Homo sapiens: one gene and its partners. The protein of the gene in region 4 purifies or fractionates together with the protein of the main gene of each other region. This does not show direct contact. Each region holds a gene or a part of one and is shown on either strand. Other genes may lie near its edges.

Region 1 (7,028 bases), on a different chromosome or scaffold from region 4:
CATGTGGAAAAAAGTGATGGAAACATGAACTATTTGCACTACTGCTTACTTGCAAATCAGAAGGATAATATATTATGTACAAGGGTGACAAACATTTTAGCTTTACAATTAGAAAATGTGTAACTACAAAGAGTCAATAAAAATCAGAAATTCATATATTGAAAAGTACTGATATCCTCTCAAATCAGCCAATTAAAAAAATGGAGATAACTAGCATTTATAGAGTTTACAAGGCACTTTTATATAAAGTATTTGCTTTCATTCTCATAAAAATCTGATTAGATAGGTAGTGTCTCCCCTTGACAGGTCAGAAACAAAAAGGTGGAAGAAATATAATGCATAACCACACCTTCTGACTACGATATCTGCGATCTTCCCACCATCCCTCATTGCCTCATATGTAGATAAACCCAATATATGCTTGAAGAAAGCATGTTTCTTACTGAGACAACGGCTTAAAGTGAAATTTTGGGATAGGATTATTGTAGTTAAAATGACAGATGACTAAATAAGAGAAAAATTCCATGGCCAACACATATGAAAAATATGACAACTAGTAAACTAGTTACTGTGGATTACATCAAGATGCACCCATGTGGTCTGAGATGAAAGATCAGTATGGTAGGGACCAGTTTTCACACTGTTTACATCATTTTTCTTGAAGTTGCCATCTCTTCTTATTAAAACAGTATAGCATGGCCGGGCATGGTGGCTCACGCCTGTAATCCCAAAACTTTGGGAGGCCGAGGCAGGCGGATCACGAGGTCAGGAGATCGAGACCATCCTGGCTAACACGGTGATCCCATCTCAACTAAAAATACAAAAACTTAGCCAGGCGTGATGGTGGGTGCCTGTAGTCCCAGCTACTTGGGAGGCTGAGGCAGGAGAATGGCTGAACCTGGAAGGTGGAGCTTGCAGTGAGCCGAGATTGCACCACTGCACTCCAGCCTGGGCGACAGAGTGAGACTCCGTCTCAAAACAAACAAACAAGGAAGAATAAAAACATAGTCCCTGAATGGATCCATTATATAAAGACCCAATACAATATTCCCACACCATCCAAACCTTTGGCATTCTTGAGCTAGAACAAATCCACCTCTATTATGTAGGGAAATTATGACTTATGGATAGAGCGTGATTCAGAATAGTTACGTAAGTTTACTCATTTAAAAAATATTGGCTGGGCATGGTGGCTCACACCTGTAATCCCAACATTTTGGGAGGCTGAGGCGGGCGGATCACGAGGTCAGGGGTTTGAGACCAGCCTGGCCAACATGGTGAAAACCCATCTCTACTAAAGATACAAAAAATTAGCTGGGCGTGGTGGCACATGCCTGTAGTCCCAGCTACTTGGGAGGCTGAGGCAGGAGAATCACTTGAACCCAGGAGGCAGAGGTTGCAGTGAGCGAAGACTGTGCCACTGCACTCCAGCCTGGGCGACAGAGTAAGACTCTGTTTCAAAAAAAAAAAAAGAAAAATAATTTACTGGACACCTACCATGTGCTCATTATTTAGATCTATCTGGGGTACTATGGGAGACTCTGAGGTGAATAAGATAAGGATTTAAAGTCTAGAACAAGGGCCAGCAAACTTCTGTAAAGTGGCAGATAGTACCTAAAATAAAAGCACTAAAATAGGCTTTGTGGGCCATGCAGCCCCTATTGCAAATACTCAACTCTGCCACTGTAGCATGCAGGCAGCCATAGACAGTACACAAATTAATGTGTACTGTTCCAAAAAAGCCCTTTATTTATAAAAACTGGTAGTTGGCTGGATTCCTGGTCTAGAACCAGTGATAGGATATACCCAAATATCTACATACTCAACCTAACTGTTCAGGCTTTTATTTCTTGCCTGAACTGTTATAAAAGCTCCCCCTCTTGTCCTGTGTCGCCAACTCCACTCCTCTAACTACTCCACTCGACAGAGCTGCCAGAGTGATCTTATGTTTTAACACTATGTCACTGCTATTCTTAAAACTCAATGGCTTAGCACTACTCACAGAAAAAAAGTCCATACTTCTTAGCAGAGTATAAAAGGCTCTTTGTGCTCCATCCCTACTTTAGTCTCCTGACTTATCCCCCACAATCTCTCTACCATCCCTCCCCTAACTTCCATGCTGAAGCAATACTAAACTACTCCAACGCACTATGCTATTCTGTGTCTCTGCTTCTTTGCATATGTTGTTCCCTCTACCTAAAAGGCCCTGCTCTACCAACAGACATGCATATGAAGGTTTCTCTCACCCCACAAGTTGACCATATCTGACATGAGTTCACTCTCTTGCCTTGCATGTACTTTCTGTTACTGCACGTGGAGGGTTAGACTGAGGGCAGCTTAATGGTAGGTACTTTACTTCTTTGCAGTCGGGGTATTAACTCCTAGCACAGGGTCTAGCATGCAGTAGATGCCGAATAAATCTACTGTGAACCAAAGTCAACTGACAGTACCATAAATGATACATTACTATTTCAAGAAGGAAACGGGTATAACATTCTTGAAAGGGAAAATGTGAAAAGGTGTGAGGACAGTGGTAGCATATGAGCCAGGTTTTGAAAAGACAGGTAAACGTAGAGGATGAAGATCCTCAGTGATGCAAAAAAAACAAAACCAAAGCAGAGATGTTGAAAAATAAATTAATGTCTGATGACCGGTGATTATTTAAGTTTGGCTGAAGTATGTGGAGAATAATCAGGAGCACATTTGGAAAGGCCAGTTAGGGTCAGATCTAGAGGACCCAAAAGACCCAAAAGAAGCCTGTACTTTGTTTTGTAAATGATGGGGAATCACTGAAAGTGTCTGAATGGTTGAATGATATGATACAGGAAGGTTAATCAAAGAGAAGGTGGGTAGTGGCAGTGAGAACTAAAAGGCACTGCCAAGACAGAACTGAAAAAATTTGGCAAGTGACTTGACCTAGGGCACAGTAGAGTGCCAGGAATCAAAGATAATCCTGATGTTTTAAGCCTGGGAAATTGGGATAAACAGGGAAATGCGAGCAGAAAGGAAAGTAGTAAAAAAGACAATAAATTTGGTTTTGCAATATTAAATCTGAGACCTGATAAAACATCTAGGTGAGGGTATTTAGTACAAATCTGAAAGTAGGAGACAGATATGTTCAGTAAATCTGTCTACAGGTGGTAACTAAAACCTAAAGGAGAGAAGAGATGGAAGATCAAGAGCACTTTATCAAAATAAAAGTATCCTAGTACGTATTTCTACCATGGTAACTACAATATTATTGTACTAATTTGAAAATATGTCCATTTTCCTGACTCTGAACTCCTTGAGGGAAGAGTTCACAATTATCTTTATGTCTCCAGCCCAATAGCTTGAACACATCAACTATTCAATATATTTGCTGAATAAAGCAGCCCCCAAAATTCTAGTACGTGGAAACTCCCACTTCCTCTGACATATTACAACTTTTTTTTTTTTTTTGGAGACGGAATCTCGCTCTGTCACCCAGGCTGGAGTGCAGTGGCGCAATCTCAGCTCACTTCAAGCTCTGCCTCCTGGGTTCACACCATTCTCTTGCCTCAGCCTCCCGAGTAGCCGGGACTACAGGTGCCCGCCACCATGCCCGGCTAATTTTTTGTATTTTTAGTGGAGACGGGGTTTCACCGTGTTAGCCAGGATGGTCTCGATCTCCTGACCTTGTGATCCGCCCGCCTCAGCCTCCCAAAGTGCTGGGATTACAGGCATGAGCCACCATGCCTGGCCATATTACAACTTTTAATACAATACAAAGATTTAAAAACACTTCTTCAAAATTTTCACTTTACGTGTCTGTGTCAGATGGTGATGACCTAAGGTAGATGAGTCAGTGGTTACTACAGGGCAGATGCAAACATTATCTTCCTTCCTGCTACTCTGAAGATTTAGCAGTTGACAATTAATTCTTATTCCTTTTACCATCTCTTCTCCACCAAAAGTCAGCATTTCCCTACCCCTTGATATGCTTGAAAGGAAAGAGAAAGAATACTGGCATAATGTTTATAATCTGTTTAGCTGATTTTCCTGACCTTTATGTGTCTATTCATAGCAGTGGACTGGGCTGCTCGCACCAGACCCTCCAATTCAGCACCACTGAAATTCTTGGTCTCCACGGCCAGTTCTTTAATGTCTACATCAGCAGAGAGTAACTGATGCCCTCTCATTCTTGCTGTGTGGATGTGAAGAATCTGTAGTCGGCCTTTCTCATCTGGCAAGCCTGATGAAATTAAAAATAAAATAGGCATTTTCCTAGTCTCGAAAGCACCATCAGAGGAGATTATCATTATTATTATTACTATTATTTTGAGACAGAGTCTCGCTCTGTTTCCCAGGCTGGAGTGCAGTGGTACGATCTCAGCTCACTGCAACCTCTGCCTCCTGGATTCAGGCGATTCTCCTATCTCAGCCTTCCGAGTAGCTGGAATTACAGGTGCACACCACCACACTCGGCTAAGTTTTTTGTATTTTTAGTAGAGAAGGGGTTTCACCATCTTGGCCAGGCTGGTCTCGAACAACTGGCCTCAAGTGATCCACCTGCCTCAGCCTCCCAAAGTGCTGGGATTACAGGTGTGAGCCACTGCGCCCAGCCTAGAGGAGATTATTATGATCCTAATGTTTTCCTTATAGGTACTCAAGCATGTAAACATCTACTTCTCATGATATAAACCTTTTCTAAAAAATACTACACCATATGACATTGTTCCTGTTAATGAACTCTAAATGCCTCCACTCCCCCCACCACACACCCAATCAGTGACAGATCTCCTTACCTATCTCCATTTTAACTTCCAGTCTTCCAGGTCTAAGAAGAGCCTCATCTATCAGATCTGGTCTATTGGTCATTCCTGAACACAGATGTTAAAACAAAACAACAAATGATCAGAGTTCAAAAATAAAATCAAATGTCCTTTTAGTATATGTAAGAATAGTAATTTCCCTAACAAGCTAAGGAGACTTTGCTTTACTATTTCACTACTGTATAAGCCAATGGAATATAAATGTTATGAAAACTTCCAGTATTTAAAAAGAAAATTTAAGATTCAAAGGGTAAATAATCTGTCAAAGTGACAGAGGGGCAATGTGACACGATCTCTCTGACTCCAAAGTTCCTTCTCTTTTTTACAGGCCAGTGGTTTTCAGACTTCATAAAACAGCAGGGTGTTTTTTTTTTTTTTCCCCCAGAAGTCATCTTCAGAAGCACCTCAGTACATAAAACAGCTAAAAGAGGAAGTTATAATAGTGATGTAGGATCTGAAACGCACTCCCTGGCCCTCACTGACCCTGAAAGCACCTCTGAGGACCCCCGAAGGCCTGCAAGACCCAGTTTGAAAACCACTGCATTCCATTGTTTCATGTGTATTTTTCATTTTTGGGTGAGCTATAAGCTTCAACCTACATCTTTTTCACCTGTGGGTGAGCTATAAGCTTAAACCTACAAGTGACTGAAATCCATCTTTTATTTTTCCTATTAAGCCTAGGCATTACAATAGATTCTTCAATATCACTGGATTCTAATTTGGAAACACTGGCAAAACAGTTTAATCACAACCTACACACATCTTAATTCAGAACTTATGGCTAACGTTTTTGAATGAATAGTACTTTTTTAAAAAGTAAACATACCAATGACTAGGATGTTGTTTAGCTGCTCCACGCCATCAATTTTGGACAGCAACTGGTTGACAACAGTGTCATGAACTCCCGTGCTACCAGCCATGCTCCCTCTCTGCTTGCAGATGGCATCAATTTCATCAAAGATGATGATGTGCAAACCACTGTTAGCACCAAGCTATTAGGGGAAGAAATTATATTAAAGATCATAATTTGAATGTCTTATTAAACAAACTAATCAGAAAAACAAAACAAAGCTTTCAACAGATTGACTTCACTTCATTTTGACTAATAAATATGGCAAGTGCAATTGTGGTTGTTGTCCTCTCAAAGGTGTTGGAACTAGATTCTCAGAATTCTGCAAACTGAAAACTCATTCTAGAACCTCATATTTAATAGCTATAAAATGAAAATACACATTATATACTGATAGTGTGTGTGTATAGATAGAAAGTAAGTAGTCGATCAAATAATTTATATACATTTCTTATCTCACTATTTGAAAGACCTTACATTTGTCAGATACTTTCATTAAGTCAGTCAGTGGCAACACCCTCCCATTTTCCCTGAGTTTTGGTGAGAAGACTGTCCCAGAAGCAGTAGGTTTAATGTTTGTTTCGTTATATTATGTAACTAAAGGTTAACTCCACCTACAGGTTGACTGGGAATTGGACAAATGAGTGAAGAAACTCAACATGACTCACATGTACTTATATTACATGAAAACAGATTACGCCTTCCTAACAATAAAGTGAGAACAGAGACGGTTTATAAAAAGAACATGGTTAACAGGGTGCTGTTTCTTCTGCATAATGATTTCTGCCTTAGTTTACTAGAAATAGAATCACCATTAAAAGAAATTAGTTTGTATATTTTGAATCTTTAACAGATACAAACACTTCTGAATGCTACTAATTCATTAGGTTAATTTAACACGTACCTTCTAAAATTTATATTTAAGTAATTTAGTCTCCTATCAGGGAGTAAAGTGCACTCTGGAAATTTTTTCTTTTATAAACAAAAAACACGGCCGGGTGCGGTGGCTCCTGCCTGTAATCCCAGCACTTTGGGAGGCAGAGGAGGATGGATCAACTTAGGTCAGGAGTTCGAGACCAGCCTGGCCAACATGGTGAAACCCTATCTCTACTAAAAATACAAAAATTAGCTGGGTGTGGTGGCAGGTGCCTGTAATCCCAGCTACTCTGGAGGCTGAGGCAGGAAAATCACCTGAACCCAGGAGGCAGAGGTTGCAGTGAGCCGAGACTGCACCACTGCACTCCAGCCTGGGCGACAGAGTGAGACTCCGTCTCAAAAACAAAAAATACTAGGGATTAACAAAACTGGTAAAAAATGAACATAACCTAAATATGACAACATACGGATAATAAAAATTAAATGAGCATAATGAGACTGAGGATTAA
Region 2 (7,028 bases), on a different chromosome or scaffold from region 4:
ACAAAATAGGCAACACTGGGTTTCAGGACCTCACTCTGTTATCCAAAATCCTTGGGACAAGATAGGATTTTGATTTTGGAATTCTCAGGATTAAAAAAAGCCTAAATTACATATCCTTTGTATTAGTCGACACCACTAGGAGGACACCACCAGGAGGGTCTGGGGCAGTCCCCGTAATCAGATACTTAATATTTCTGCAGAGAAAACTATGAGGAATCACAGTTGGAGTCAGTTCAGGTAAGGTTTTTCTGTAACATGAGCTTGCGGCAAATTTAAAGAAAAAAAAAACAACGAGATTTCTTTAGAGCTTCCTAGATTTCAGAACTGCAAGACTATAGACCTGTCTATACAATAACACAAACTCAGTGGCAGTGCAATGTGGTAGAAACAATGCTATCTGAGGCAGACAACCAGGCTTTGCCACTTGTTTACATTGCTACCTTCGACAACATACTCTATAACTCTTTGGGACTGTTTCCTCACCTGTAAAATAGGGCAATCCTATCAGCTCAACTTCCCTCACAGGGCTCTTGTGAGAACCAGGTAATAAACAAAAGCACTTTATGTCAATATGAGTTAAGGAATGTACTTTAATAAAATAACCTCCTATAAGGCACTACGTGCTTTATTATAAACCCAGAAGGCCTCAGGACTAACATCCCTGATGGGGTGTGTGACAGTGTGTCTGTGCATGCACACGCGCATTTCCCCATCTGTCCTCACAGAGAAACCAGTATTTCCCACTAGGAAAACTGACTCCAGCAGGCTTACACTATTTGCTGTCCAATGTGCAGCTGGGAAAGAAAACCCCAAAATACTATTTCAGCAGTGCCTATTTCATAAGTCACTAAATATTCCAGACTTTTCAACTTTTGATTAGTAAATGATTATTCTGAGGCTAGAATGTAATATGCCAATTAGTACTAACAGTCTTACTAAAAAGGCTGTATTAACTCTGACAGCATCAATGGCAGTTAGAAACTCCTGGTCTTGATCTGTGCCCACAATAGACACCTGACAGCCTTGCAGGATTCAGGGCAACCAACTCTTCATTAAATCAACTGTTACATATATGTTGACAACTAAAATAAGTCTTTGTCCCTTACCTAAATTTTCAAATTAAAAAATATTTAACTCATTTTAGATCCTGGCAGCATCTTGGCGCTGCAGCTGGCAGGCCTATCCAGGCAGGGCCAAACTCTAAAAAGCAAGAGCTACCTTTCTGCGCTAGGTATGACTTTTCATACTGAAGACAAAACAGGCACATCATCAGGCACATCATCCGACCTTCAGTCCATGGACACTCACCAACCAAGTTGCTAGCCCAAATCTATCTCAGTACCATCCAACAAAAATATGAGTCACATATGCCATTTTACATTTTCTAGTAGCCATGTTTGTAAAAATTTCAAAAGAAACAGGTGAAATTAATTCTGTTGTATTTAGTTTAATATAGCCAAAATACTGTAATTTCAACATGTAATATAAAAATTATTAATAAGCTATTTTATATTTTTCTATATGAAGTCTTCAAAATCCAGTAAGCATTTTACCTCTGGAGCACATCTCAATTCAGACTGGCCACATAACACTTACTCAACAGCCACATGTGGCTAGTAGCTATTATACTGGATGGCACAGGTCTAAGTCCAAATCCCATGCTTTTTCCCATTTATCTGTTATTTCTATTTTTTTAGAGACAGGGTCTCCTCTGTCACCCAGGTTGGAGTACAGTGGTGCCATCATAGCTCACTGCAGCCTCAAACACCTGGGCTCAAACAATCCTCCCACCTCAGCCTCCTTCCCTAGTACTTGGGACTACAGGTGTGAACCACCATGCCCAGCGGTTTCATGCCCTTAAAAACAAACCCCTTTACTATTGTTCTAGTGAGCTGTGGAGAGGGAGTGGAGGTAGGGGTGTGTCAATGCACCATCTTTAACTGGAAGTCCCTCTGACTCTATTACCCACTGCCCAGCCAGGCTGCCTCATCAACAGAGAAGCTCAGGCCATTAGTCCTTTCCCCTCCTCAAACTGAACTTTAGGGTCAGGACCCATTTTAGATAGACATGAAACAGATTCTGGCTACTCCAGCTTCCTACCTGGTCTCCCTACCTGACTCCACTGCAGCACATCATCTAAATCACACCTGATCACACCATCACTCCTCACCTCACCTCCACTGGTCTCTCATTATGCTGAGAATAAGTAGTCGTACCTCCTTACCATGCTGACAAGGCCTTCCCTGGTTTGTTCTCTGCCTCCAGACACATGGAACCTCTCTGCTCCATGCACGTGTGCACCTCTCCATCTTCACAGGTGCATTTTCTTCCTCCTGGTCTACACACCCCACACCACCTGCCTCCACACCAACTCTCACCTCACCTGGCTAGCATCCACACATCCTTCAGATTTCAGTTAAACCCCTCTTCCTCAGGGACCTTGGGCTAAGTCAGGGCTCTCCAGGCAGCATGCACTGGCCCCATCACAGGGGCCCTCCCACTTCACTGCCATCACCTAATGACCCCTCGCCACTTACCCAATATCCGTTCTACCCTGCAAGCGGCAAACTCTTTGGCAGAGATGGGTTGTCTTGTCTGCTCTGTTCCCTTCTATATCCCTTGGCTTCCAGAAGGCCCGGTGTAGAACACGGGCCCACTAAGAATTCATAATCAATCAATGTGTCATGATAAACGTAATATCGAGACAGGAAAGTTTCTGAAATATCCTGGTGGACTGTTTTTTCATTTTTCTCTTTCAAAAGATTTACAAAATGATGTGGCAGCATTTAAGAATGCAGTTTTTGCCATCGAACTTCTGGGTGCAAAAGGGATTGTTCATAAGGAAAAACAAACTGAGGTTATGTTTTGTTTTTATTTATTTTTCTGAGAGGAAAGAGTTTTTATTAACTGGCGTTAAATTTGTAAGTTTTTTTTAAAAAAAAAAAACAAAGTTACAATAATTTAAGATTCAAAGCAAAACGTGTCTGTTCAATATAGCAGGAGAGTCATGGGATGATAAAGTCAGCTCATGTCCTATCCTCTCTGGAACAAAAATTCCCACAGGTTACAGAGGCTTCTCTGTTTCATATTCCCATTCATAACTATACTTCGAGTATCTGCTCAGAGACATCTGTGTCTGTTTTTGGAGGTGTTTAAAAATAATAACAACTTCACCTAAAGCCTGTAGTAAAATTTACGAAGTAGAATTGCTTCTTTTGGGGAGGCTAATCTGTAAAACAGAATAAAAATGCAGCTATGAATAAAATAGCTTTTGATTTTACCAGCCACGTAGCTGCCAGGCTTTTTAGGGGTGTCATAGGATGGCTCTGCCCCTCAATTTCACTGAAGCGAGAGGGGTGTCTCAATACTCACACTGCCTGTTCCTCCAGCTCCCCTCCGATGCGCTGGGACATGTTCTTCAGCACCCCGATGCTGCCAGAGACCAGCTCCAACTGCTCATCCTGCTGTTCCACGATCAACTGGTGCCAGAGAAATGGGAAATAAGCAATTAAAATCCATCTTACCTGGTTCCAAGCCCAGCACTCTAGCAGCTGCTAGTTTCTTTGCCAACTTGGGACAATTCACATTCAGAAGCAAAGCCCAGAAATCAAAGGACCAGACCGTTGCCTCTGAGAACACACTGCTCAAAAGGCTGGATTGTTAAGCTACTGATATCTCCTGCTGATCCAACTTGTGAACAGTCAGCGGGGCTTGAAACCACCAAGAGAGATTTACTCTGGTTGGCTGACGTCCAATAATGGAGCAGACAATGGTTGAAAGCACACGTGCAGATGACCATTGAGACATGGGGATGTTTGGGAGGAGGAAGCCCATTGCCAAGATCAAGGTCTCAATCCACAACAGACTGCCACAGCTTAAATACAAGAGAGTCTGGCAAATCTCTGGATGTGGGGAAACTATGCAGTCTTTCCTCTCTCTTCAAGGACAAACGAAAGGATTCCCTGTGGCAATAAGTTACCTCAAGGACAACTACTGACTGACAAATATTTACTTTTAGTTGTGTTGCATTCTTCTCACTTTCTATAGAAAAAAAATTTCCTGGGTTTAATAGCAATTTAAGTAGACAACTGGTTAAGCAGACATACTAATGTAAAGAACAAAAGAACATATAAACTACATGTATACATAAAACACAATATTTAAGAATCAATAGTTTCAATGGGTACATGCTCCTCAAATCCCCAGACACATTATCATTAGCTTGCTTTTATTAATACAGCTACATATCAAAGGCATCAACAGACATAATCAATTTCATTTTCCTTCTACCCCTTAACCTACACAAAAGCAGTCATCTTTACATATAACAAAACCAACCAATAGGCCGGGCGCGGTGGCTCATGCCTGTAATCCTAGTACTTTGGGAGGCTGAGTCAGGTGGATTGCCTGAGCTCAAGAGTTCGAGACCAGCCTGAGAAACAAGGTGAAACCCCGTCTCTACTAAAATACAAAAAAAAAATTAGCTGGGCGTGGTGGCGTGCACCTGTAGTCCCAGCTACTCAGGAGGCTGAGGCAGGAGAACTGCTTGAACTCGGGAGGCGGAGGTTGCCGTGAGCCGAGATGGTGCCACTGCACTCCAGCCTGGGTGACAGAGTGAGACTCCGTCTCACAAAAAAAAAAAAAAAAAAGAAACCAATCAATAATTTTCGAAGAAAAAAATGAGAGATCTTTCTGAAAGTGTCTTTGCTGAGATGGACAAAGGTCTGTTTTTTCTAAGAGAACTAACTGAGCTTGGTTCTTTATTTTTTTAGAGAAAGGGTCTTGCTCTGTCACCCAGGCTAGAATGCAATGGCATGATCGAAGCTCACTGTAGCCTTGAACTCCTGGGCTCAAGGATCCTCCAGCCTCAGCCTCCTCAGTAGCTAGGACTAAAGGTGTGAGCCACCACGCCTGGCTGAGCTTGGTTCTCTTGAAGCAGTCACACTGTGAAGATTTTGAAACCCTTTACATATGCAATTATTAAACACAATCAACACAGGACAAGCTCTGGCTTACCCTCCTTGTCACTAAGCCACAAGACCCCATGGCTGGCAAAGGAACTAAGGGGGTGTCTTGTTTCCCACTGGCCCGTCCTAAGTCTGGGGTCCTTGGGGTACCTGCTGCTGTGCCTGCTGCTCCTCAATGAAATGAGAATTGGCTCTCTGGAGCTCTCGGTCCAGACGCCCATATTTATCTGTTGTTCCAGTGCTCCAGTTCTGGCTGCCACTGTCTCCCAGCAGTGCCTGTGTGAGAAGAACAACCAGAGGAGTCAGGAGAAACAAACAATTACTATCTCTGAACAAGTGATGCATCAAGAGTGATATAAAGAGTTTTCACATTTCTTGTCTATTTTCCCCTGGGCAAGGCTTTTATGTAGTGGTGTAGGTTGGTGCCTGGGTGGTACTATTTAAGGAATTCCAGGAAGGGCCCTCTATGTCTTTAAGCTCTCCCAATAGGCCTCACAATGGGCTTTGTCCCCTTAAAGTGCAAATAAACGTCTGCTAAATCAACAAACACCCATCTATATACTGTGTTATAATTGAAAAGCATTCAATCTCTTGTAAAAGAGCTCTTCCTGGTACCTGTGGAACTTCAGCAACCCATAGGTTCCAGTCAACCTGATTCCGAAGATCTAGAGTACTTTTTTAAAAAAAGTGTGACCCAGGGGAAGTTGTGGGTTTTTTTGGTGGGGGGAAAGGGAGAGTTCCCTGGAATGACAAGAAGGTAAGCCATAGCCCTTCACACACAAAGGCACAAGAACCATCAATGTCTGTTAAGTTTAACCCATGAATAGAATCCAGGGTCCTTCAGGCTTTCCAGATGACAACTGGGGGTTACTTTACAGGCAGGTATGACCACAAGGAATGCCTGACCCTGGCAACCGAGGCAAGGGCTGCCCTAAAGTCAGAGTTCTCCACCAGGGCTCCCAGACACAAGGGTCGGGTTTCCCAAGTATGAATTCAAGGAAGTTTGCAGCCATAAATGGGTATGTCTTCCTCACATGAAGAAGACAGGCAGGAATGTGAGAGTTCCATCTCAGCAGTTGGTTCTGACCAGATCCCCACAAGCCTTCCTGACTGGTCAAAGTAACTGCTCACACCAGCCCCGCAGGCAAGAGCCAGAAGACGCTAGCAACTAAGACTCTTTTTCCTTGTAGAGTTGCCAAATTTTCCTATCGGGTAATTTAAAAAAAATCTCAGGCACTATTAAAAGCCTGCCTGGTTACTTGGTTCTGTCTGAAAACCCTTCCAACAGCCCCATGACCTTCCTCCATACTGACACTGACCTCTTCTCAGACTGCGAGGGGTGAACTCCATCAAATGGCCAGACTTCAGGGGCTAGGATCAGGGAAGCTCAGTTATTAGAAGCTTTTCTTACAAGAGCTTCCAGGGGCCCAGAGCTTCAGTCCAGCTGGATGGTGACTGTCTCTGGTGTAAAGCAGATCCAAGGCTTTTTGTGGGTGGCTCTGCCCTGACCTGGTCTTAGGGCTATCAAGACTGAAAAGATCCTGCTCATTATGATCCACACTCTAAGGACCTCTATGGAAGACATGAGGAAATAGTGACAATTTTTTTAGGGTCAGAAAAATGCTATAATGCATCACTGGCCTAAGGACAGAGAACTGGGACACCACCAGGGCCTTGTGTGCTCCTGAGGTCACAGGGCTATTTTTCCTACGTTTTCCATGGTGTACACTTAGGTAGAGCTAAGTATAGGGCAAATCATCCACGTTTTATTGTGAAATAGCTTAAAGTTCATCAGTCTGATCCCAAATGTTTGTGATAATAGGATAGAGATTGAGAGAGGGCCCAAGGACTGGAAGATGCACCTGTGTGTGGGTGCCAGAGCAGGGGTGCTGGTGAGGCAAGGAGCAGCACAGAGCCTGGCACCTGGCACAACGTGGCAAGGCCCATGCCTGCTGGAGTGCTTAGAGAGCCCTGATCCTGCTATTCCTTGAAAATTTGCAACTTGACATTTCACTCATAGCCTAAAACAAAATTCCAAGCCATAACTAGATAGGCAATATA
Region 3 (7,028 bases), on a different chromosome or scaffold from region 4:
CTAGCTGTATTTTGGTGTTAGTTAACCAACCTTTGGCTATCCCCTTCCCGCCATCCTTCTCTGCTTCTAGTAACCACTATAATTTTAACAGCCCATTTAGTTAGTGGCTAGTCTGTTAGTACAGGTCTAGGTAATGAATTATATAATTATTATTCTGAGCAATTAAATAGGAATTCTGAGTGGGCTTTCAAAAGTATTCAACAAGAGTACTTTAGTGCGTAGCAGCTCTGGGCTAGGTAATGGAGACTGATGTGGAAAGCAGACATCTGAATAACTCAGCATCCATTTAGCCTATATGCAGAGATCATAAGCTTTTAATCAATTTGTAGTTACCTATCCTGTCTGTCTATGCTTGTATATATATTTTTTAAAGACAACCATTTGGTTCCTTTCCTTTGTGTGTCTCATTATCAAAAGAGCCAACTGTTGTTGCCTTTTAGATACCACTTATTAGCAGAATAATAGAGAAAAGGAGTAAGCTATTCCTCTGTGTTACCTTGATCAACTCATGTAGTTATCCCAAACATATTCCTTCATCTTAGGAGTGGGAATAGCAAAACTTCATATGGGGCATGCAGAAAAGTGGTAAATTTGGTTTTTCTTTTGTCTTTTTTTATTTTATGTTATGTTATGTTATGTTATGTTATGTTATGTTATGTTATGTTATGTTATGTTATGTTATTTTGAGACGAGTCTCGCTCTGTCGCCGGGCTGGAGTGCAGTGGCGTGATCTTGGCTCACTGCAACCTCCGCCTCCTGGGTTCAAGCGATTGTCCTGCCTCAGCCTCCTGAGTAGCTGGCACTACAGGCGCATGCCACCACACCCAGTTAATTTTTTTAGTAGAGATGAGATTTCACCATGTTGGCCAGGATGGTCTCAATCTCTTGACCTTGTCATCTGCCTGTCTTGGCCTTCCAAAGTTCCGGGATTACAGGCGTGAGCCACCGCGCCCAGCCCAAATTTGGTTTTTCTAACTGAGTTCACCTGCCCTCAATTTTGTTATACAAGGAAGCAGTATGGCTTAGTGTTTAAAAAATGTCGGCTCTGTGGTTATTTTCAAATATTTGCTCCTTTGCTTATAATGATAATGAGGCATAATGATATGCCTCAGTTTCTTCATGTAAAAAAATCACATTAGCAATTATACCCACATGATAGGCTTATAAGAATTAACTGAGAAAATAAATTTAAAAGTCATAAGCACAATGCTTAGGAAATGTAAGTCCTGGATGAGTGTTGGCCATTGTTAACTTTGTTTTATTTTACACATCTTTCTTCTCTATCTTTTGCAAATTGCTTTTCATTCTTCACACATGATTCCTGGCTAGATACAGTGGCTCAAACCTGTAATCCCAGCACTTTGGGAGGCTGAGACTGGAGGATCGCATGAGCCCAGGAGTTCAAGACCAGTCTGGGCAACAAAGTGAGACCCCCATCTCTATAAAAAAATCAAAAAATTAGTGGGATGTGGTGGCAGGTGCCTGTGGACCCAGCTACTCGGGATGCTGAGATGGGAGGATTGCCTGAGCCTGGAAGTCAGGGCTGCAGTGAGTCGTAATCACACCACTGCACTCCAGCCTGGGTGCTCCTGTCTCAAACAACAACAACGCCAAACAAAGAAAAAGTAAAACAAAACTCATAATTCCAGTCAATCTAAGTAGCACCTCTTTGGGTGAATGAAGCCACTTGCCAATTGTCTCACCAGCAGGAACTTTCTCACATTTAGTAGCTTGAGGAAAGGGATGAAGAAAATTGATTGTGTTTGTGACTAAGTGATTGATTTTCCAGAGAGGAAAAAAGGTGGCCTTGAAAGAAAACAGTGAGAAGACTTGGGCTACACTGGTGTGAGTTTTAAGGGTAAGGAAAATGCTGTAGAATACTGTCCTTGACTTGATGGAACTCTTTATGGGAGAGAGAGTAGGCCTCAGGTGTGCTTGCATGGTTTTGAGACAGGTGATGAGTTTCTCTTGGTCTTGTGCTGATGCTGGTCCTGCAGCTGCAAGAACAGATCATAACTTTCCTCTGTGTAGGGTGGAAAAGCATTTGTTCTCTGGATGTGCATTATCTCATTTTGATTCTGGCAGTGGGCCCAAATGCTAAGTGTCTTGCCCAAAGTAGAAATTTCCAGTTGCTACTTCCATGGTGTGCCGCACAGGCAATGGCTGAGTTCTTGTAGCTTCACAGACATGTAGACACGAGAGAAAGCCAAGGGTACGAGCTGGAGACATGGATGTGCGACTCATTCAGGTATAGATTAAAATGGAACCATGTATATGGAGGAGCATCCCCAGAGATTACATGAATAACAAACTGAACATTTTTTCATTCAATGTGTTTGTTTTGGCTTGTAAGCCAGTTTTTCCAGAGATCTACTTGATAGAGGGAAAGGAGAAAGGAAGATGTCATTGAACCAAGAGAAAATTGTCTTTCTCCATACCTTGGAATATTATTTGGCAATAATGAAGGAATATTATTTGGCAATAATGAAGGAATGAAGGACTGATATATGATACAGCACAGATGGACTTTGGAAGCATACTAAGAGAAAGAAGCTAGTCTCGAAGAACACATTGTATGATTCCATTCCTATGAAATGTCCAGAATAGCAAAGCTATAAAGATACAAAGTAGATTAGTAGTCACCTTTGGCCAGTGAGGTTGGGGAGAAATGGAGAGCGATTGCTAATGATTACAAACTTTCCTTTTAGCGTAATAGAAATGTTCTAAAAGTGATGATTGTACAATGTTGTAAATATATTAAAAACCATTGGCTTGTGTACTTCAAGTAGGTGTATTGTATTGCCATATCTCAATAAATTATATCTCAATAAAGCCATTTTATTTATATAAATTTAAGGGGTGCACATGCAGTTTTGTTACATGGTTATATTGCATAGCGTGAAGTCTGGGCTTTTAGTGTAATCATCACCTGAATAATGTACATTGTACGCATTAAGTAATTTCTCATCCCTCACCCTCCCATCCTTTTGAGTCTCCAATGTCTTCTTATTCCACTCTCTGTCCATGTGTACACATTATTTAGGTTCCACTTACAAGTGAGAACATGCAGCATTTGACTTTTTTCTGAGTCATTTCACTTAAGATAATGGCCTCCAGTTCATCTGTGTTGCTGTGAAAGACATAACTTCAGTCTTTTTTAAGGTTGAATAGTATTCCATTGCATTTATATACACTACATTTTCTTTATCCATTCAGGAATGTTAATAGACACTTGATGGGCACTTAGGTTAATTCCAAATCTTTGTTCTTGTGAATATTGCTACAATAGACATATGAGTGCAGATTATCTTTTTGGTATAATGGTTTTTTTTTTCTTTTGGGTAGATACCCAGTAACGAGGTTACTGGATCAAATATTAATTCTATTTTTAGTTCTTTGATGACTTGCCATGCTGTTTTCTGTAGAGGTTGTACTACTTTACAGTCTCACCAACAGTGTGTGTGTTCCTGTTTCTCTGCATTCTTGCCAACATCTGTACTTGTTTGACTTTTTTTCTTTTTTTTCCGTTCAAGATGTGTTTGTGGATGAATTTTTAATAGCCATTCTGACTGTTGTGAGATGATGTCTCATTGTGGTATTAATTTGCATTTATCTGGTGCTTACTGATGTTAAACATTTTTCATGTGCTTCTTGGCCATTTGTATGTCTTCTTTTGAAAAATGTCTATTCATGTGCTTTGCCCCCTTTTTAATGGGGTTATTTGTGGGGTTTTTTGTTGAGTTGTTTGAGTTTCTTGTAAATTCTGGATATTAATCTCGTTGGATGTGTAGTTTGCAGATATTTTTCTCCCATTCTGCAGGTTGTCTGTTCATTCTGTTTATTATTTCTTTTGCTGTGCAAAAGCTTTTTAGTTTAATTAAATCTCATTTTGTCTGTTTTTTGTCTTGTTGCCTGTGCTTTTGAGGTCTTAGTCATAAATTCTTTTCCTAAACCAATGTCCAGAAGAGTTTTCCCTATATTTTCTTTTAGTATTTTAATCGTTTTAGGTATTACTTTTAAGTCTTTAATCCATCTTGAGTCGATTTTTTTTTTTATATGTTGACAGATAAGGGTCCAGTTTCACTCTTCCGCATGGGGCGATCCAATTTTCCCAGCACCATGTATTGAAAAGGGCGTCCTTTCCTCAGTGTATGTTTTTGTCAACTTTGTCAAAAAGATCAATTGACTGTAGATATGTGACTTTACTTCTGACTTCTCTATTCCATTCCATTGTTCTATGTGTCTGTTTTTATATGAATATCATGCTGTTTTAGTTACTATACCCTTTTAGTATAATTTGAGGTCAGGCAATGAGATGCCTCCAGCTTTGTTCTTTTTCTTAAAATTGCTTTGGCTATTCAAAACCTGTGTTTTTTTTTTTTTTTTTTTTTTTTTAAGTGACTTGGAGATGCATTTAAAATTGCATGGTTTCAAGGATGTTCCGGATGGTGTTGGTGTCATTGAATCCCCATGTCTACTCTTGTTCTGTCTGGGCCCAAGTCCAAGGCTACCTGGAAGGAAGTTTATTCCTGTCTCCCCACTGTAGTGGTCCAGCTGTCTGACTTTAGGTTTGAATTTACCCTTTAATGAAATTGCTTTTGGATCCATCTCTAGGATTTGGTGAGACCCAGAGAGCCCAGAATAGATCAGCTGTACCTGAGAGGGAAGTTGGAGAATATCTAAAAGCCACCAGGACTTTCAGCGTGGCCAGGCACATTCAAAGTGCACCAGAGTTCCAGGCATAGAACCAGTACTGTTCTAATGGTCTCAACAGTTCAGCTGTTGTACTTCCTGCCAACACTGTCCCTTAGAGCAAAGACACATACTTCACTGTGGCTTCTTCTCTACCAGAAATCTTCTGTGGCATTAGTTCTATGTGGTAGCAAGCATGGATAGCCTTGGCATCAGAACCCTGGGACTGAATCTCACCTCCACCTGTGGGTGGGTTGGGTTACCATTACTTAATCATAATAAGCCCGCTGTTTGCTCATCATTAAAACAAGAATAATGCCACTTAATTGAAGGAGGTTGTGAAAAAATTAGTCTGTGAAATACTTTTTGTGTCGCAGATGTGCGAGAAATGTTAGGCCATTCCTCTCTTTCCCTTTATGTTGTTTTCCCCTTGTCCCAGCTGTGAATCATCTGATCCAGGGTTGGCCAGGAACCTTCCCTTCCTTTTGTAAATACCATACTGCATGTGGCCTTTCCACGTGCTCTGGGTCTCTCCACCCCAGCCTTCACGTCCTTGCCTTTGTTGTTCTGCATACTGGTCATAACCAAGCATCCAAATCCTATGTTTCTATTTCATAAATTCTTTCCAGACAAGGATGATGGTCATTTTTTCTTTTTGTAGCCCTTCTCATTTTAGCCTAGCACGTGATCTTTTATGGATTTGTGGGGTTTTTTGTTGGTTTGCATTATTAACTTTATCCTTCCTCCTAAATGACAAACTTGATTTGAGCAGATACTGTGTCAGTGTGTTTTGTTTTGTTTGCATCTCCCAGGTGCTTAGTTTAATGCTGGGCATGTACCAGGCTCTTAGTAGAGAGCTAGCTTACAAATTGACCACCAACAATTTTGCAGTATTCCAGTGCATATTCATGGAAAAGATGGGGTGGCGGTAGTTGAAATTCTTTGCTGTGCGCAGTTCTGTATGCAGGGACATTCCTTTTCAACCTTCTTTCCAAACCCTGATTGGAGTGGTGTGGATTGAAGAGGTAGAGAATGTCATCTCACCTGCCTCCTGTGGCAGTATCTCAGTGTCTCTTCTATTCTGAGATGCTGGCTGCTGAAAGGGGAGAGTCATTCGTTCTCCTTCCTCTGTCAGGAAGGTTTGATAAACATTTTATATGACATTTGCTTCGCAGTAGTTGGCTCTGCTATTTCAGATTTAACCTTTTCCATTAAAATTAGAGCCCTATTAATCATACATTCCTGAGCAGGTCCTGTGTGTGTGTTAAATTAGATATTAAGGTTGGTACAAAAGTAATTGCCATTTTTACCATTACTTTTAATGGCAAAAACCACAATTAAAAGTAATGGTAAAAACTGCAATTACTTTTGCACAACCTAATACAGTGAAATTTCTGGGGATAGCCTGAAGTCTGTGTTCCATTTAATAAATATTTAAATGCCTGTTTGTGCTAAGAGTTGTTTTAAATATTGGAGAAAGATAAATAAGCATGTGGGCCCTGCCTTATAATTGTTTGGAGTTTAGTTAAGGAAAAAATATGTAAACAACTAAAATTATATACAGGTAAGGGATTTAATAATTTTTCTTGAAGAGATCAAAGACGTTTTCAAAGGAAATATGCAATTTGAACCTTATTTTAATTGTTTGATGTGTTTAACATGACTCTGTCCTTTGAAGTCCAGTTTTTTTTTTTTTAGTAGACATGAGAGTTTTGCTATTTGATGTGTCACTTTGCCAGATTTCAACTCTATTAGATTAATCAAGTTTGTCCTTGTAACTTCACAGATTGTTAATTTGGAAAATGTAAGCCAGTAACTTAAAAAATATATCTGTGTGACTTTTATATTATTTAGGTGACTGCTTAGAAAACTGCACAGCATCTGATGAAATTAGCGAATAAGAACATCAACCATGTCTTACACTCCAGGAGTTGGTGGTGACCCCGCCCAGTTGGCCCAGAGGATCTCTTCTAACATCCAGAAGATCACACAGTGTTGTGAGTTGAGTTTTAAATGGACTTCACTATTTGTATCCACTCTTAACTGAACTTGGTGGAGGTTCATAAAAGGACAACTCTGCTGATTGAGAGAGGGAGGAGCATTCCTCTAACAACAGGTTTTAAAGGGCTCGAACTCTTTAGAATGAATGCAAGAGAATTATATTTGAGATAACACTTACTGCATTTTTCTATAGGAAGTCAGGGCCAGGCACATAATACATTATTTCATTAAATAAAATAAAGATTTAAAAGGATAATGGATTCTTATATCTGCTTTAAAGCTATCTGGTTCTAGATGAGATGATGAGACCTGATGACTCAGTCTCATAGGTTTGG
Region 4 (7,028 bases):
ATGTTTTACTCAGCTCTAAAAAGACACAGCCTGGCTCCCCACCCTCAGGAACACCAATTCTACCATTCAGATGGAAAAACAAAGCCCAACAATGCTGCTCCCCAGATGCCTCATGACCATGGTGGGACAGGTACACAACTAGTAAAAGTTTCAATTATAAATTTTTTTTAATTAAAACTTTAGAAATATATATATTTTCAAAACCTATGTAAGACGTTATTTAGAAAAAAAATTATCTACATATATCATTATAATAAACAACTGAAGGCCTTAAGTTGATCTGATACTATGATGATACTCTAAAGGCCTAAGGCCAAACAGGTACTTACAAATCTACTGAAAAAGACAAATGAGAAAAAATAAAAACTTATAGTCATGGTTCACTTTATGTGCAAGACATCATGTGAGGATATTTCTCACACACTGACTAATGTATTCTTCACAACAGTCCAGCAAGACAGGTACTAGTGGCTTCATTTTTACAAATGAATTAACTGAGGCTTAGAGATAATTAATGACCTGCAACACACAGCTAGTCCTCACAGATTTTCATAGGTCTACTGAATTACAAAGGCCACTACAGAATGGACCTCTTTCAGAGAGTCCGTCTAAAAGAAATGAATAAAAGCAACCTACAGAGGACAACAGATAGAGGAAAAGTGGAGAAATGAGCCTCAATTTTAAAATATGTATATGGTCAACAGAGTTAGATGGGTGAGTAAATGGCTATACACCACACAACTAACATCTATTTTATCTAAATCTATGGTGAAATTCAATGCAAGTGGTCAGTTTCCTTATGAGTAGTAGCTTGAGAAGAAAAAAAGAGGTAGGAAAAAATCTCTTAAGTACATGGGTAAAAAATAATCTCACTAGAAACCTCTTTCTTTCAAGAGAAAAGATGAAAGCTATGCAAATGGGTCCACTTACATCATTGTCCATGTACTTGAAAAGCGGTGAGTTGCAGACATCTGACACCTGATCTTGGTCTTGCTGGTCATAACCTTCAAGAAGCTGTTCCAGGGCAGCACAGTCTTCACTGCCATTGAACCCAGGGATGCTGCAGTAAGCACAAATCACACGTCTTCACCTTCTCCTTAAAAGAACACATCTCAGGCAGGGATGATTCTGCCCCTGGCATGTGACACTGTCTGGAGACATTTTGGTACTTAAAAGTGTGGGAATGCTAGTGGCATCTAGAGGGCAGAGACCGGGGATCCCGCTAACCAGCCTACAGTGCACAGGACAGGCCCGACCACAAAGAATTATCCAGCCCAAATGTTAACAGTGTTGAGATTAAGACTGCTCATGTTAAACACCGAGAAAATTCCTCATTTTGATTTCTGTAACATAAATCTGATAATTTTTTCCCCCTTTTTCTTGTTCTTTTTTTCTTAGAAGGCAAATAAAATGACTAAAATGACTAAAGTCATTCACTTCCATGGAGGTCCCCTAGAGAAAAATACAGGAAAGGGAAAAAAAAAAAAGGTGTAAAACACCCACTGTAAAAGATGAAATGGTAGATGAGCACTCCTAAGATTTAGAAATGACAGTTTCATGGCCAGGAACATGTGTCCTAGCAGCAATCTTAGTTGTAGACACAGAGGTGTCGCCACTGCAAGTCAAGAGGGCCCAGACAACGTCTTACCTATAGCTCTCCCGGACACATCTTTCTGCAGCTACATAGTCATTTCTGTGTAGATGAACTAAGACTTGAGCAATTGTTTTCTAAAACAAAAGAGAGGATCATGGTCAAATTTACATCTGTTTAATAAAGTCAATAACCTGGCAGTATTGAAAACACCTGGAGTTTAACTTTCAGAGTCTTTGTTTGTATAAACAGAGATTTATAAATGCTATAGTAACTTCCACGGGACACCTGAGGGGAAATATCCTAGAACAGTACTTTTCCAATTCTCATGTCCTGGAATTTGGCTGCTAGGGGCAAGCCTGGGATTCACCCATTTCTAACAAATTCCAGGGGGCACTCCTGCTGCTGGTCTGGGGACCGCACTTTGACACAAGCCTTAGATCACAACCACGTTTTAAAGAGATCTCTTTCAAATATCTACACAGATTCAATCTTGAAAAGTGAATAAAAAAGAAGTGGGGGGGACCCGTAACACCACAATGATACTTAGAATCCTTAAAAAGAAACTAGGAAAAAGATGTATGAGTGAAAACTTCAGATAACAGAAACAATGATAGTATTGATAAGTCAACAATAAAAGTAGTAATAAGATCAAGGATATGACTGATAAATTACTGGAAAAATAGGTCTTCATGAAGTATTTTTCCATCTTTTGGTGTCTCTATTGTTTAGGTAACTTTTACTGATCTATCTTTAAGTTCACAAAGTCTTCCTTCTGTCATCTCTGAGATTAAGCTTATCCAATTATTTTACTTCAATAATGTATTTGCCAGTCCTAAAATTCCCAATTAGTTCATTTTTATAGTTTCTATAAAAATAATTTTTCCTATAAAAAACAACAGGTCCTCTTTTCTATTCATTTTAATTGTGTTTATCTTTACCTCATGGAGCAACTTATAGTTGCTTCAGTCTTTATGTGATAATGCCAACAACCCTGGTCACTGCCGGGTTGCCATCAGTTGTCTTTTCTCCTGAAAACTGGTCATATTTCCAGGTTCTTGCATGTTGAGTAATTCTGGATTGTACTGTGAATGTGATGCTGCACAGCCTCTGCTTAATTTTCAGGAGAGTACAGATGTTTTCAGCAGGTAATCACCCCAGTTAGGTTCAGACTACATGTGGTGCCTTGTTTTTGGTGGATGGAAGTTCTACACTTAATTCAAATCCTTTGCTATGTGGCTTTGGGCCTGTTCCATGCATAAGCCCTTCAGAGGGCAGTGCAACACTTCGACAGTGATGAAATCTTAGCTCTCCAAGCTTTGCGCTGCACTGCTACTTTGAGGCCTGTCTCAGCACAGCTGAAGAGTAAACCCAAGACTTGTGTGGGCCACATCCACACTCAGGGGACTCCGTTTCCAGCTCTCTCCTTTCCGGAATTTTCTCCTTGCTCTCTAGCTCATTTTCCTAGTTCCTCTGGCAAAAGAGACTGGGGTCCTTGTGGAGTTTTATCAACCTGAGCCATCATCACAGTGTAGCTCCATGCCTGGGACAAGCTTGGAGCAAAGCCAAAGGAGAGGAAAACAATGGGACCTCTTCTCCCATTGCTGGTTAGAAAGGCGGGGTTTCTTTTGGAGTTTTCATTGTTGCAGCCTTTGCTGCCCAGCTCCACAACTGTGGGCTTCTCTCAGGGCAGGGCAATGAATGCTGCAAGAGGAAATGGAAAAAAACCCGAGAAACTCATTCCCATGGTGGTTGTTTCTCCACGTGTTTGCTCCTCTCCTTAGTCTCTTTTTATTTACTTTTCAGAGTTCAAGGGTGGTTGCTTTTGTATTTTATCCAGTAGTTTAGCTGTAATCAGCAGAGAAACAAGCTGTAGTGGGCTTACTCTATCTTGGTCAAAAATAGAGGCCCATGAAGTATTATTTTACAAAAACATAGAAATACCCATAGAATCCTTTCTTAAGTACTTATTCATACCAGTATAAAAAATCATCTAATGTAATACCAAAAACAAACACTTTCAAAGAATACCTTATAACAAGTTGGATAATTCTCAATTTCCTTATAAATATTTTTTTCTTTCTGAATAGAGAGTGCCGCCTCATCAAACCTAAAACAAAACACAGAAATGTAAAAAAAGCAGGTCTAAATGATCTATAGCAGAGGTCCCCTGTGAAATGTACTTGACATCATAGATTGTAGAGACACCAGGAGGACAGGTATTATTAGCAGCTGCCCCAGGACCCAGGTTTCCACATGCTCTGCTCATCTGGCTTACCTTTCAAATGTCTGACTCCCCACTTTCAGGCTGCACGCTGACAGAAAAAGCAAAAGAACTCAAGGATGGGTTAGGTCAAACGGGGAGTTTTAAGCTTAGTAAGGACTGTCCAATAGCGAGTGTCACGACTTCTTCGTGATACGTACTTGAGACGATCTTCGATTAAATCACCCAAGATTTCTTTCCTCCCGACTGAAAGAACATCCAGACACCCAAGGCACTCGGTGCCTTCCCCCGACTGTGTCCCTCCATCACATACTCCGCTGCTGCCCCAGTGGCCCTAGCAAGCTCTGAGGTGCCTAAAAGGGCAGCAGAGGGGAGGCAAGTTAGAGACCTAAACAAAAGCCTTCCTGCATCTTCAGTCTTCAACATTCATCTTTTCCATTGACCCTCATACATTCTCCTTTTCTTCCATTTTGCCCAATGGCAGAATGAAGACGAAAGCAAGGAAAGGGGTCACCAAAACATTTCCCCCAAACCCTCCAGGCCCTTACCCCTTTCTCATTCCCCCAGCCCTAATTCCATCAAACCCTAATTGAACCTCCCCTCCCTGCAAAGCTGTAGTATACTCCAAATGCCAGGACTCCCTCAGTAGTACAACTTGAGACTGAGTGAAATGTACAGTCTTTAGCCACTGCTCTCATCCCAATAACAGTCCACGGTTATGGGAGAAACTACCAGGGTCTGGGCATTGGGAATACACACAACCAACAGCCAAAAGGGGCAAGAGTCTGTACTATCGGGATTCAAAGGGAGGTAAGTGGTATTGTAAACCAAAGTAAAAATACAAAAATGTTATGCTTGTTATGCTATATGCTCTATTTTTCTGTCTTTTTATTTTTTTTTGAGACGGAGTCTCACTCTGTTGCCCAGGCTGGAGTGCAGTGGCGACATCTCGGCTCACCGCAACCTCTGCCTCCCGGGTTCAAGTGATTCTCTTGCCTCAGCCTCCCGAGTAGCTGGGATTACAGGCGCCCACCACCACGCCCAGCTAATTTCTGTATTTTTAATAGAGATGGGGTTTCGCTATGTTGGCCAGGCTGGTCTCGAACTCCTGACCTCAGGGGATCCACCTGCCTCAGCCCCCCAAAGTGCTGGGATTATAGACGTGAGCCACCGCACCCAGCCTGTATGTTATCTTTTTAAAAATAGTGGCATGTATACACAGACACACACACACACCACACACACAGTGGCTTGGCTTATGCTATTATGGCTACTTACATCATGAGTTAAACTGAATCTTTATGGGATGCACGCTGGCAACTTAGTGCCTTATAAAATGACACTCATAGGAGAAATGCATTCTGAATTTCCACAGGTCAACTTGATAAATTTTTGGAACAAAGTCAATTTATAAGCTGGGTTTGGTAGCAGAATTCTAAGAGTGCTCCCGATTCTTGCCCCTTGTAAACATTTCCTCTATAATCCCCCTTTAAGTGTAGGTGTGACCCTCGGAATATGATGGGCCATCCTGTGATTAGGACACAAATCAGCTGACTTCGAGTGAATCACTGTCTGTGTGGGCCTGACTTAATCAGGTGGGCCCTTCCTTAAGTTAGAGGCCAGAGTACTCCTGATGTCTCGAATTAGCAGCAAACTGCCATGCTGTGAACCACCAATGGGGGCACACGGCCAGGAACTGAAGGCAAACTCAAAGCTGAGAGCAGTTCCTGGCGAACAGGCAACAAGAAAACAGGAATCTCTTCCACACAGCTGCAAGGAAATCAATTCTGCCAACAATCAATGAGCTTGGAAAAGGACCCAAGCCTCCGGTGAGATCAGCCCCCTCCGACACCTTCATTTCGGCCTGGTGAGACCCTAGCTCTGCTACCTAGCTACACTAGGACCTAGCTACACTGTATCCAGACTTCTGGCCTCATGAAACTGTGAGCTAATCAGTGAGTACTGTTTTAAGCTGCTAAGTTTGTAGCAATCTGCTATGCAGAAATAAAAAATTAATGCAAGGCGGACTACAGCTACATGTATCTGTATCATTTATAATTGTGACCCTGAGCTTATAACAGATCCTGTTTTATAAAATAAATTATGGTCAGAATATTCTGTGCCCGTCGTGTCTAGATTATATCATTCTATTAGCAATCTCAGTATTTTAAACTTTTCATATATTTAACTATAAAGGGTGCATTCTTTACGCATAAACTGTTTATTTCCTTGACATAATATTAGCATTTCTATGTGCTAATATATAGTTACCTAACAAAAGAGCCAAGCCCTTACATGAGTTTGTAGTCGAAAAAGTTGATCGACTTTGCTAAAAGGCCATGAAATTAGCATACAAAGCCATCTATTTTTAAATGTATCCAGAAAAGTATTAGTTACTTATTATAATGAAACACAGATGCTTTCAACTTTTCCATCAGGTAATACTTAATATTCCTAACAAAATGACAAGAATTTGGTTTTGCTGAAAAAAGAATAAATTGTTTTTATCTTCCCCAAATGTAACAAAATTGAAACCCCACAGAAGTTATGTGCAAATGGCAGAAAACTGTCACAGAACCTCATTCATCCCCAAGCTTTCAACAGACACCTTCTACACCACAACTCAAACTGTTCCTCTGGCCCCAACTATTTCCTGAACTCCAAAACCTATTTTTAACTACCTACAGAAATGTTTAGTTTATGTGTCATATTCCCAGCTAAGTTTATTATCATCACTGATAAGTTTGTTTCTATATTCCTTATCTCAGTTATTGATGGCACCATGGACAGAACAGTTATGCAAGACAGAAACCCAGTGATTCTCCTTAATAGCACACATCCCACCCCTGAACATATACACACCCAACCCTCCTTGTGTTTAGGATCTAGTGACTGTCTCAGACAACTGGTGAGAAGCAGCTCTTTTCTTTGCTAAGTGAGTCTTCTAGGAGGGATTTGGGTTCACTGAGACCACACACCTTGTCTCAGAGGCATAGACCTTCTCTCAGAGGCACAAGGTCATGATCAACTTGCTGGAAAGGTCTTTTTTTCTTTTCTTTTCTTTTTTTTTTTTTTTGAGATGGGAGTCTCACTGCAACCTGTGCCTCCTGGGTTCAAGCGATTCTCCAGCCTCCCGAGTAGCTGGGATTATAGGTGTGCGTCATCACACCCGGCTACTTTTTGTATTTTTAGTAGAGAAGGAGTTTCACCATT

Evidence for each region.
Region 1: the proteins of NAPG (region 4) and NSF purify together in Homo sapiens (affinity purification with mass spectrometry; 3 studies listed by BioGRID and IntAct, with this or other methods). This does not show direct contact.
Region 2: the proteins of NAPG (region 4) and STX6 purify together in Homo sapiens (affinity purification with mass spectrometry; 3 studies listed by BioGRID and IntAct, with this or other methods). This does not show direct contact.
Region 3: the proteins of NAPG (region 4) and STX7 purify together in Homo sapiens (affinity purification with mass spectrometry; 5 studies listed by BioGRID and IntAct, with this or other methods). This does not show direct contact.

What each region holds. Positions count from the first base shown.
Region 1 is NC_000017.11:46,691,660-46,698,687, reverse strand, and holds part of NSF (vesicle-fusing ATPase), read right to left. Parts: intron 5,786-7,028; coding exon 5,620-5,785; intron 4,842-5,619; coding exon 4,767-4,841; intron 4,214-4,766; coding exon 4,026-4,213; intron 1-4,025.
Region 2 is NC_000001.11:180,984,867-180,991,894, forward strand, and holds part of STX6 (syntaxin-6), read right to left. Parts: intron 5,244-7,028; coding exon 5,118-5,243; intron 3,480-5,117; coding exon 3,373-3,479; intron 1-3,372. UniProt on the Homo sapiens protein: SNARE promoting movement of transport vesicles to target membranes. Targets endosomes to the trans-Golgi network, and may therefore function in retrograde trafficking.
Region 3 is NC_000006.12:132,503,107-132,510,134, reverse strand, and holds part of STX7 (syntaxin-7), read left to right. Parts: intron 1-6,546; 5' UTR 6,547-6,604; coding exon 6,605-6,689; intron 6,690-7,028. UniProt on the Homo sapiens protein: May be involved in protein trafficking from the plasma membrane to the early endosome (EE) as well as in homotypic fusion of endocytic organelles. Mediates the endocytic trafficking from early endosomes to late endosomes and lysosomes.
Region 4 is NC_000018.10:10,542,999-10,550,026, reverse strand, and holds part of NAPG (gamma-soluble NSF attachment protein), read right to left. Parts: intron 3,702-7,028; coding exon 3,623-3,701; intron 1,729-3,622; coding exon 1,649-1,728; intron 1,061-1,648; coding exon 931-1,060; intron 1-930. UniProt on the Homo sapiens protein: Required for vesicular transport between the endoplasmic reticulum and the Golgi apparatus.